2 linked regions of the Homo sapiens genome follow. Each later gene encodes a partner of the first gene's protein in a complex. Each region holds a gene or a part of one and is shown in the gene's direction. Other genes may lie near its edges. The genes, in order: STRN and STK25.

Evidence for each region.
Region 2: STRN (region 1) and STK25 share a complex: the UniProt entries of both Homo sapiens proteins name them as parts of the core of STRIPAK complex.

Annotation. Positions count from the first base shown.
Region 1 is NC_000002.12:36,837,293-36,841,107, reverse strand, and holds the end of STRN (striatin), read left to right. Parts: 3' UTR 1-3,410; downstream 3,411-3,815. UniProt on the Homo sapiens protein: Calmodulin-binding scaffolding protein which is the center of the striatin-interacting phosphatase and kinase (STRIPAK) complexes.
Region 2 is NC_000002.12:241,498,444-241,502,258, reverse strand, and holds part of STK25 (serine/threonine-protein kinase 25), read left to right. Parts: intron 1-550; coding exon 551-781; intron 782-1,462; coding exon 1,463-1,519; intron 1,520-1,977; coding exon 1,978-2,086; intron 2,087-2,844; coding exon 2,845-3,002; intron 3,003-3,084; coding exon 3,085-3,270; intron 3,271-3,474; coding exon 3,475-3,620; intron 3,621-3,815. UniProt on the Homo sapiens protein: Oxidant stress-activated serine/threonine kinase that may play a role in the response to environmental stress.

The DNA of each region.
Region 1 (3,815 bases):
CACAATTAAAAAATAAGAGAATCTTTAGAAACATCATTGCTTTCTGGAGGTAGAAATTTTGAACTTGAAGGTTGTAGTTCCAGGCAATTTTGTGCCCTTGAGGTGTCCAATTGATAGTATAGCTTGCCTCTGCTAATAAATACACAAAAGTTTTCTTTCCTGTGATTTTCAGAAATTATTTTTGGAATACAAAGATTAATAAGGAATATGTGATGTTTATCTCCTGCATTTCAAAATCTTCTGGATTTTTTTTGAGGCATGAGGAGCAGGTAATGAGATTTTTTTTCTGAATATCTTGATTCTCTCCCTTAACCCAGATTTTGCATATTATGCATTGCTCATTTGTCACCTACAAAAATAAAGGTTAATGATTATTTGTTTGCTTTTGTCTATATAAGCTCCCTAAGGCACAGACCATGTTCGTTTTTCTTATGTTCCTCTTAGCACTGTGCCTGGTGCCTTGCCATATAAAAGGTACCCTATAAATATTTGTTGGCTGAGTAATCAGAGAGCCCATTTCAAAATCTAAATTATACAAATCATCAAAGACCAAAAAAAAAAAAAAAAAATCTCTTGACAGTTGATGCTCAAATGCATTTGGTTCTGTGGAGCTTATCCTGAGATTGAGGTCTGCACCTTGACTGGAGAGGAATTTGGACTTTACCTCACAGGTAGCAACAAAATGCCTGAGTAGCAACGTCTTTATACTGCACAGTTCCAGTCCTGCCTGCGTGAAAACTGAGCAGAGCATGGTGGGGACAGGAAGGTGTCCCTAAACCCTGTTGATGACCTCCCATCTATCCCCGGACCCCCATATCTCCTCTGCTCATCCCCTGTTCCCCACTGGCCTCTGATCAGTTGAAAGGGAGCTTTTCTAGCCTGGAACCTGAGCCTGCCTTGATTATCCTGGGCTCAGAACAGGTCCACTTCCACACTCTTTCCTTGCAACCTACAGATGGCCCTACTGACTGCTGTTGTCCAGGAGAAAGACGAACCTCCCAGTGGAATCTTGTCAGGAAAGGCATCCCTCTGGGGAGCTTTCTTTGGAGAGGAAAATTCTGGGACAAAGTTCCTCAGGATGCTCTCAGGCTGGTTTTTGTCTTGAAGATTTTATAGTAATTGTACCAATGTTTATTAACTCTCCTAGGAACATCTCTGTCTTTGGTTTTCTGACAGCACTCCAGCAGGGCCCAGGGCTTTAGCTGAACAGTGCAATTGTTTTAGGAATAAAACAGTCAACAAGTTAGAGACCAACTATTTATATTTAATATTCAAATGACTTTAAATCATTAAAAGAATCAGCAAATTACATATGAAATATTCAACGAATAATCTCAACATTAAACATATACCATGTAAGAACTGTCATTAAAATTACTAAAAATATGATTCCTTTAAGATCAGTTCAACACAGAAGAAAGCAGGAATTTGGCCTGGACAATAGGACATTTATTGTCTGTTAGATTTTAGACAAGTCAACTCTTCTAAATTGGCTTCTCATCTATGAAATGGGGATAATAGATCTGCCTAATTAGGTTGATTTGAGATAACGGATGTAAAACACCTAATAAAATAAGCATCCAGCAAATGACTTGTTCACTCTCTGAATACAGACTTCTGGTCATGTAGTTCGGTCACACTCCTGATAGCTTCTAGAACATCAGGGTTTTAGGAGAAATAGGTTAAAATGAACATCAAGAGTAGCAGAAGACTACTTTCCTTAATATTTGAGTGCCAGCTATATGCCACACAGTTCTAGTTGCTGGCAGTCAGCAGTAAACAAAAACTTCACCTGATGCAGCACATTCCAGGTGGGGGAACAAGTGAAAATATAGGGAATATTAGTGATAAGTGCAGAGGGAAAAAAAATAGAGCAGGGAAGGGGGATGATTTGATGTTTTTCAGGTTAAGAAAGTGACAGAAATGAATTTAAATGCAAAAAACAATGCATAAAGATTCATAATGGCAAAACGAAGCATGTCCCATCATACCCCTTCATTCCTACCTCCCTGATATGTATCTTTCTAATTATTCATACAAATGTGTATACCCAGTTATTACATATGGGGTTTTATTCTACATATTATGCTGCACTTGCTTTTTCTAATATAATGTGTATCATGAGCACCTTACAAATTTTTAAAGGTCTCTCAAATTTATCAGTAAACATATACAGTCTAACGTTAATGAGAAGATATTTTGGTGGGCAGTTTGCTTTAAATAAATGGGATCATGTACGTTCTCTGCATCTCACATTTCTCATTTAACAATGTAGGATGAGAATTTCTCTAAGTCTATCATAGCTCTTATTTCCTTTTTATTATTACAATAAACATTCCTGTGTATATGTTTGTCACCATGATGGTTTTACGTCTGCGGAATAGATTCCCTGGAGTAGGATTGCTGCATTGAGGAGTATGTATATTTAAATTTTTAAATAAATATTGACAGATTGTTTCCCAAAGTGGCCGGAACAGTTTTTATTTCCATCAGTAAATGTATAAAAACACTTTTCCCTTAATACTCATGGCAATAACTATTGTAACATTAAAAAATACGTAGAAAAAAGAAAAAAATCCTGGTGGATGTAGTGATTTTTCAGTGTTATTTTAATTTCCATTTTCCTGACTACTATAAATGTAGACATCTTTTCAAATGTTTTGGTCATCTGGATTGCACTCAGAACTGAATTATCTATTCAAAGTTCTGTAGGTTAGAACTCCAGGGAAACTCAACTGGGCTGTCTGTTCAAGGCCCAACAAGGCTGAAATGAAAGTGTCTTCCAGGGTGGGTACTCAACTAAAGCTCTGAGGAGGAATTCGCTTCCAGCCTCATTAAAGTCAGAGGATGGAGGTCCCTGTCTCCTAGCTGACTGTCAAATCTGATCCTTTAGAGGTTGCTCCGTGGTCCTTGCACGTGGTCCCTTCCACCTTCAAAGCTTGCCAGGGTGCATCAAATTATTTTTATACTTTGACTCTACTTCTACCAGCCAGAGAAAACTGCTTTTAAAGGGCTCTTGTGACTAGTTTAAGCACACCCAGATTGTTAAGGTCAACTGATTAGTAGCTTTAATTACATCTGCCAAGTCCCTCTGCCCTGCAATGTAACATCAACCATGGAAGTAACATGAGGGGCAGAGTTCATGGGGGCCATCTTAGAATTCTGCCTACCACAAATATTCGTAGTTATACTTTTATATACATTTTTAAATTTTTCTTATTTTTGGTCCATATGTTTGTACCGTTTGTCTTTTTAGTTAACTAGTTTGTGAAAGCATTTTGTATGTTGTACAATATATGTTCAGATTTTCTTATCTTGGATGCAAACATTTTTTTCCAACTCTTGTAAGTTGTCTGTTGACCACATTCAAAAGTACTTTTTCCAAATAAAACTTTGCCTTTTGAATTTCACTTGAGTGAATTGCATATTTGCATTTTAAAATGTTTATTTTGTTATTTTATTAAAGTTTTGCCCATGTTCCACTGTGTTTTTTAAAATTTGCAGGTGCTCTTTTTATACTACATGTAAACCCTTTTTCTTACTATTTGCCAGTGTTTTTCTCCAAAACTATATTATTTTTGTTGACCATGTTTATAATACCTTTTCTCATTTAAAACTTTATATTAGGGCTTGGCAGGGTGGCTCACGCCTGTAATTTCAGCACGTTGGAAGGCTGAGGCAGGAGTATCGCTTGAGCCCAGGAGTTTGAGACTGGCATGGGCAACATAGTGAGACCTCGTTTCTACATACAATTTTTAAAATACTAGCTGAGCATGGTGGCACAACAGTTACCCTGGAGGCTGAGGTAGGAGAAT
Region 2 (3,815 bases), about 200 Mb from region 1:
TGGCCTCTTTATACTTTCTGGGGACTTTTTCCCTTGCATGGAAAGTTCAGTTTAGGTTTTTTTGTTGTTGTTATTTGTTTGTTTGTTTGTTTTTTTAATGGAGTTTGATTCTTGTTGCCCAGGTTGGAGTGCAATGGTGCGGTCTTGGCTCACTGCAACCTCCGCCTCCCGGGTTCAAGCAATTCTCCTGCCTCAGCCTCCTGAGTAGCTGGGATTACAGGCATGAGCCGCCACGCCCAGATAATTTTTTTGTATTAGAGATGGGGTTTCACCATGCTGGCCAGGCTGGTCTCGAACTCCTGACCTCAAGTGATCCACCTGCCTCGGCCTCCCAAAGTGCTAGAATTACAGGCGTGAGCCACCACGCCCGGCCAAGTTTAGTTTTTGAACAAAAAGGGAGAAAGGAAGAAACCAGAGAAGAATTGAGGTGCGCTCCCTTGGACTCCCCCTTCCCTACAGGTCCCTTCCTCCCCAGCAGGGCAGCCTCTGCCTGTCCCCCGCCTCTTGTGACCGGCGCTGTCTGCCCTCTGTCCCCGCCCTGGCCCCACAGCACTCTCGAGTGGACCCTGAGGAGCTCTTCACCAAGCTCGACCGCATTGGCAAGGGCTCGTTTGGGGAGGTCTACAAGGGCATCGATAACCACACAAAGGAGGTGGTGGCCATCAAGATCATCGACCTGGAGGAGGCCGAGGATGAGATCGAGGACATCCAGCAGGAGATCACTGTCCTCAGTCAGTGCGACAGCCCCTACATCACCCGCTACTTTGGCTCCTACCTAAAGGTGCCTGTTGTGGGGAGGCGGGGACCCTGCTGGTGCTGTGCCCGGCTCTCTTCCATGTCAGAGGGACTGAGTGACATGCCAGAGGGTGCAAGGCGGTCTTGACGGTTCAGTGCATGCCCTCCGGGAAACTGCCCTGGGCAGGCAGGGTGTGAGCCCTCGTCCACGAGGGTCAGTTGGCTCTAAATGGCCATTGGGACCCACTTGCCTGCCTGTGGTAATGCAGTGAGGGCGCTGCTAGGAGCACTCTGGGGGGCCCCTACTGGCAGTGGTGAGTGGGCCTGTGAGGAGCAGGTGGCTGGTGGTGCCAGTGTCTGGGGTGTAGGGAACGCTGTGGCCATCCTGCCCAGGAGGGTGATGGGTGTGTCGGGTCACATGCTTGCCAGCCATGCCCTCTTCCCAGCCCTGTAGGACTGGATCAGCAGCCTGGTTTTTGATGGGGTCTTGGTGAAGTGGAGTCAGCCACTGCTGTGTGTACTCAACCTGTCCTCTGAGCATCTGTAGCAGTAGTGTGGCAGGAGGGGAAGATGGGCAAGGCCGAGAGAGCCCTTTCCTGTTCAGGGTTCTTGGCAGGGATGGGACCGGTGGGGCCTGGGCCCTGGCTGACTCCGGCCTGTGACTCCCACCCTGGAGCATGCCCTTCCTCTTGCTGCCAAATGCTGATGGGTTTGTCTCCGGTCCCAGAGCACCAAGCTATGGATCATCATGGAGTACCTGGGCGGCGGCTCAGCACTGGACTTGGTGAGGCATAGGCCATGGCAGTGGGGGGTCATGCAGTGTCCGAGTCCCCTGCCCCTCAGACTCATGGGCTCCAGGGGCCACCTCTCGTTTGGTGTCATGGCACGTTAGGTGTTAATTAGGAATCGTCTAAAGCAAAAATGAACTGCCATCTGCACGTCTGCCCAGTTGGTGCTGAAAGGGGTCCTGGCCTGTGGGAGTGGGCGGGGGCAGGCCTGCTGGGAGATGGCTGGGAGCCTATTTTTCTGTTACATGACAGTAAGGTGAGGCTGGTTTATATGCTTTAGAAAGAGCCTCCACCACCCCACTCCCATCTGAAACTTAGTTCTGTTTGGGAAGTAAAGGAACACGAAGCCCCCAGCTATCTGCAGGGACAGCCCTTCCCTGTGAGAGAGGCAGAGAACTCAGGCATTGGGCCTGGGACAGGAGCTGAGGCCCTGCTGTCGCACCTTCCTCTCCAGCTTAAACCAGGTCCCCTGGAGGAGACATACATTGCCACGATCCTGCGGGAGATTCTGAAGGGCCTGGATTATCTGCACTCCGAACGCAAGATCCACCGAGACATCAAAGGTCCTGCTGGGGGTGGATGTGGCTCTTGTAACGTCCTGAGCCCCACTGACCTTAGAGAGGCCGGGGCCTGTGAGGGGCAAGTGGCTAGTGGTGCCCAGGGTCTGGAGTATAGAGAACCTTGTGGCCACCCTGAAACTGAGCAGTCCTGTCTCGCTCCCTTTCCAGAAGATACTACTTGTAACGGTTTCCTTGTACGCTGAGGAAACCAGCTGTGGACTGAGTGTAGGAAAGGGCCACACTTGGCTGGAGTTGTTGGTTCCCTGTGGTGCACGGCACAGCAGCAGGTGTAGAATTGAGTAGCCCCAGCGTGTGGTCTGGCCCTGCTGAGAGCAGACGGGAGGCTGGGCCAGCCCATGGGGAGGGACTTGCCACTGGCAACGAGCCATCTCTGTCATGTAGGGGACGATTCTGGTGGAGCAGGGGGCTTCCTGGCAGGCCCGTGTTGGCTACACCCTTGGTCAGGGTCACCTCTGCGGTAGCCCCCAGTGGGCGAAGTCGCTTGTCGTTGGGATTTGTCGTAAAAGCCAAATGCAGGAAGAGCCCTGGAGCTCGGAGTGGAGCCGTTGGGCTCCTGCTGGCAGTGCCCCTGTGGCCCTAGGTGGCCCTGGGTTTGAGAGTGGCAAGGAGGGCTGAGGTCCTGAGGACAGCCCTGCTGTGCCCTAGGAGGCCAGGTGGATGGTACCCTGGCCCTTCTCAGGGGGCCCGGGGTGGAGCCACGTGGAGCCTGGGATGACGCCTGCCTGTCCTGTGTCAAGCAGCTGCCAACGTGCTACTCTCGGAGCAGGGTGACGTGAAGCTGGCGGACTTTGGGGTAGCAGGGCAGCTCACAGACACGCAGATTAAGAGGAACACATTCGTGGGCACCCCCTTCTGGATGGCACCTGAGGTCATCAAGCAGTCGGCCTACGACTTCAAGGTGGGTGCAGCGGGCGGGCAGGTGCGGGCACCATGCCTGGCTCGGGTGCTCAGGGCAGCAACAGTCCTTGTGTTCTGTCCAGGCTGACATCTGGTCCCTGGGGATCACAGCCATCGAGCTGGCCAAGGGGGAGCCTCCAAACTCTGACCTCCACCCCATGCGCGTCCTGTTCCTGATTCCCAAGAACAGCCCACCCACACTGGAGGGCCAGCACAGCAAGCCCTTCAAGGAGTTCGTGGAGGCCTGCCTCAACAAAGACCCCCGATTCGTAAGGCCCGCCTCTGGCCCGGTCCCTTCTAGACAGGACGTGGAGGGAGGGCGTTCGCTTGGGGTGGGCGGCACAGCCCGGAGGCCCAGGCCCACCAGCCTTGTAGCTGTGAGGGCCCGCCCCGGTCCAGGCTGCCTCACGTTTGCTTCCCTTAGGCAGAGCTTGGCTGGGCCCAGTGACTAGTGTTCCCCTGACCCCCTGCAGCGGCCCACGGCCAAGGAGCTCCTGAAGCACAAGTTCATCACACGCTACACCAAGAAGACCTCCTTCCTCACGGAGCTCATCGACCGCTATAAGCGCTGGAAGTCAGAGGGGCATGGCGAGGAGTCCAGCTCTGAGGACTCTGACATGTAGGGACCTGGTTTATCCTCATGGTGACCCTAGGTGCTGTGACGTGGGTGGTCCCCACTCCAGAAGCAGGGGCGTGGGCCCTGGGGGTGAGGGTGACCAGATATAGTGTTGGGCAGGGACCCCCTCAAGGCTGCAGGACAGGGCCTGCTGAGGCATCAGCTGGACCCCGTGGCCTGGCAGAGCCCCGTCTGGTA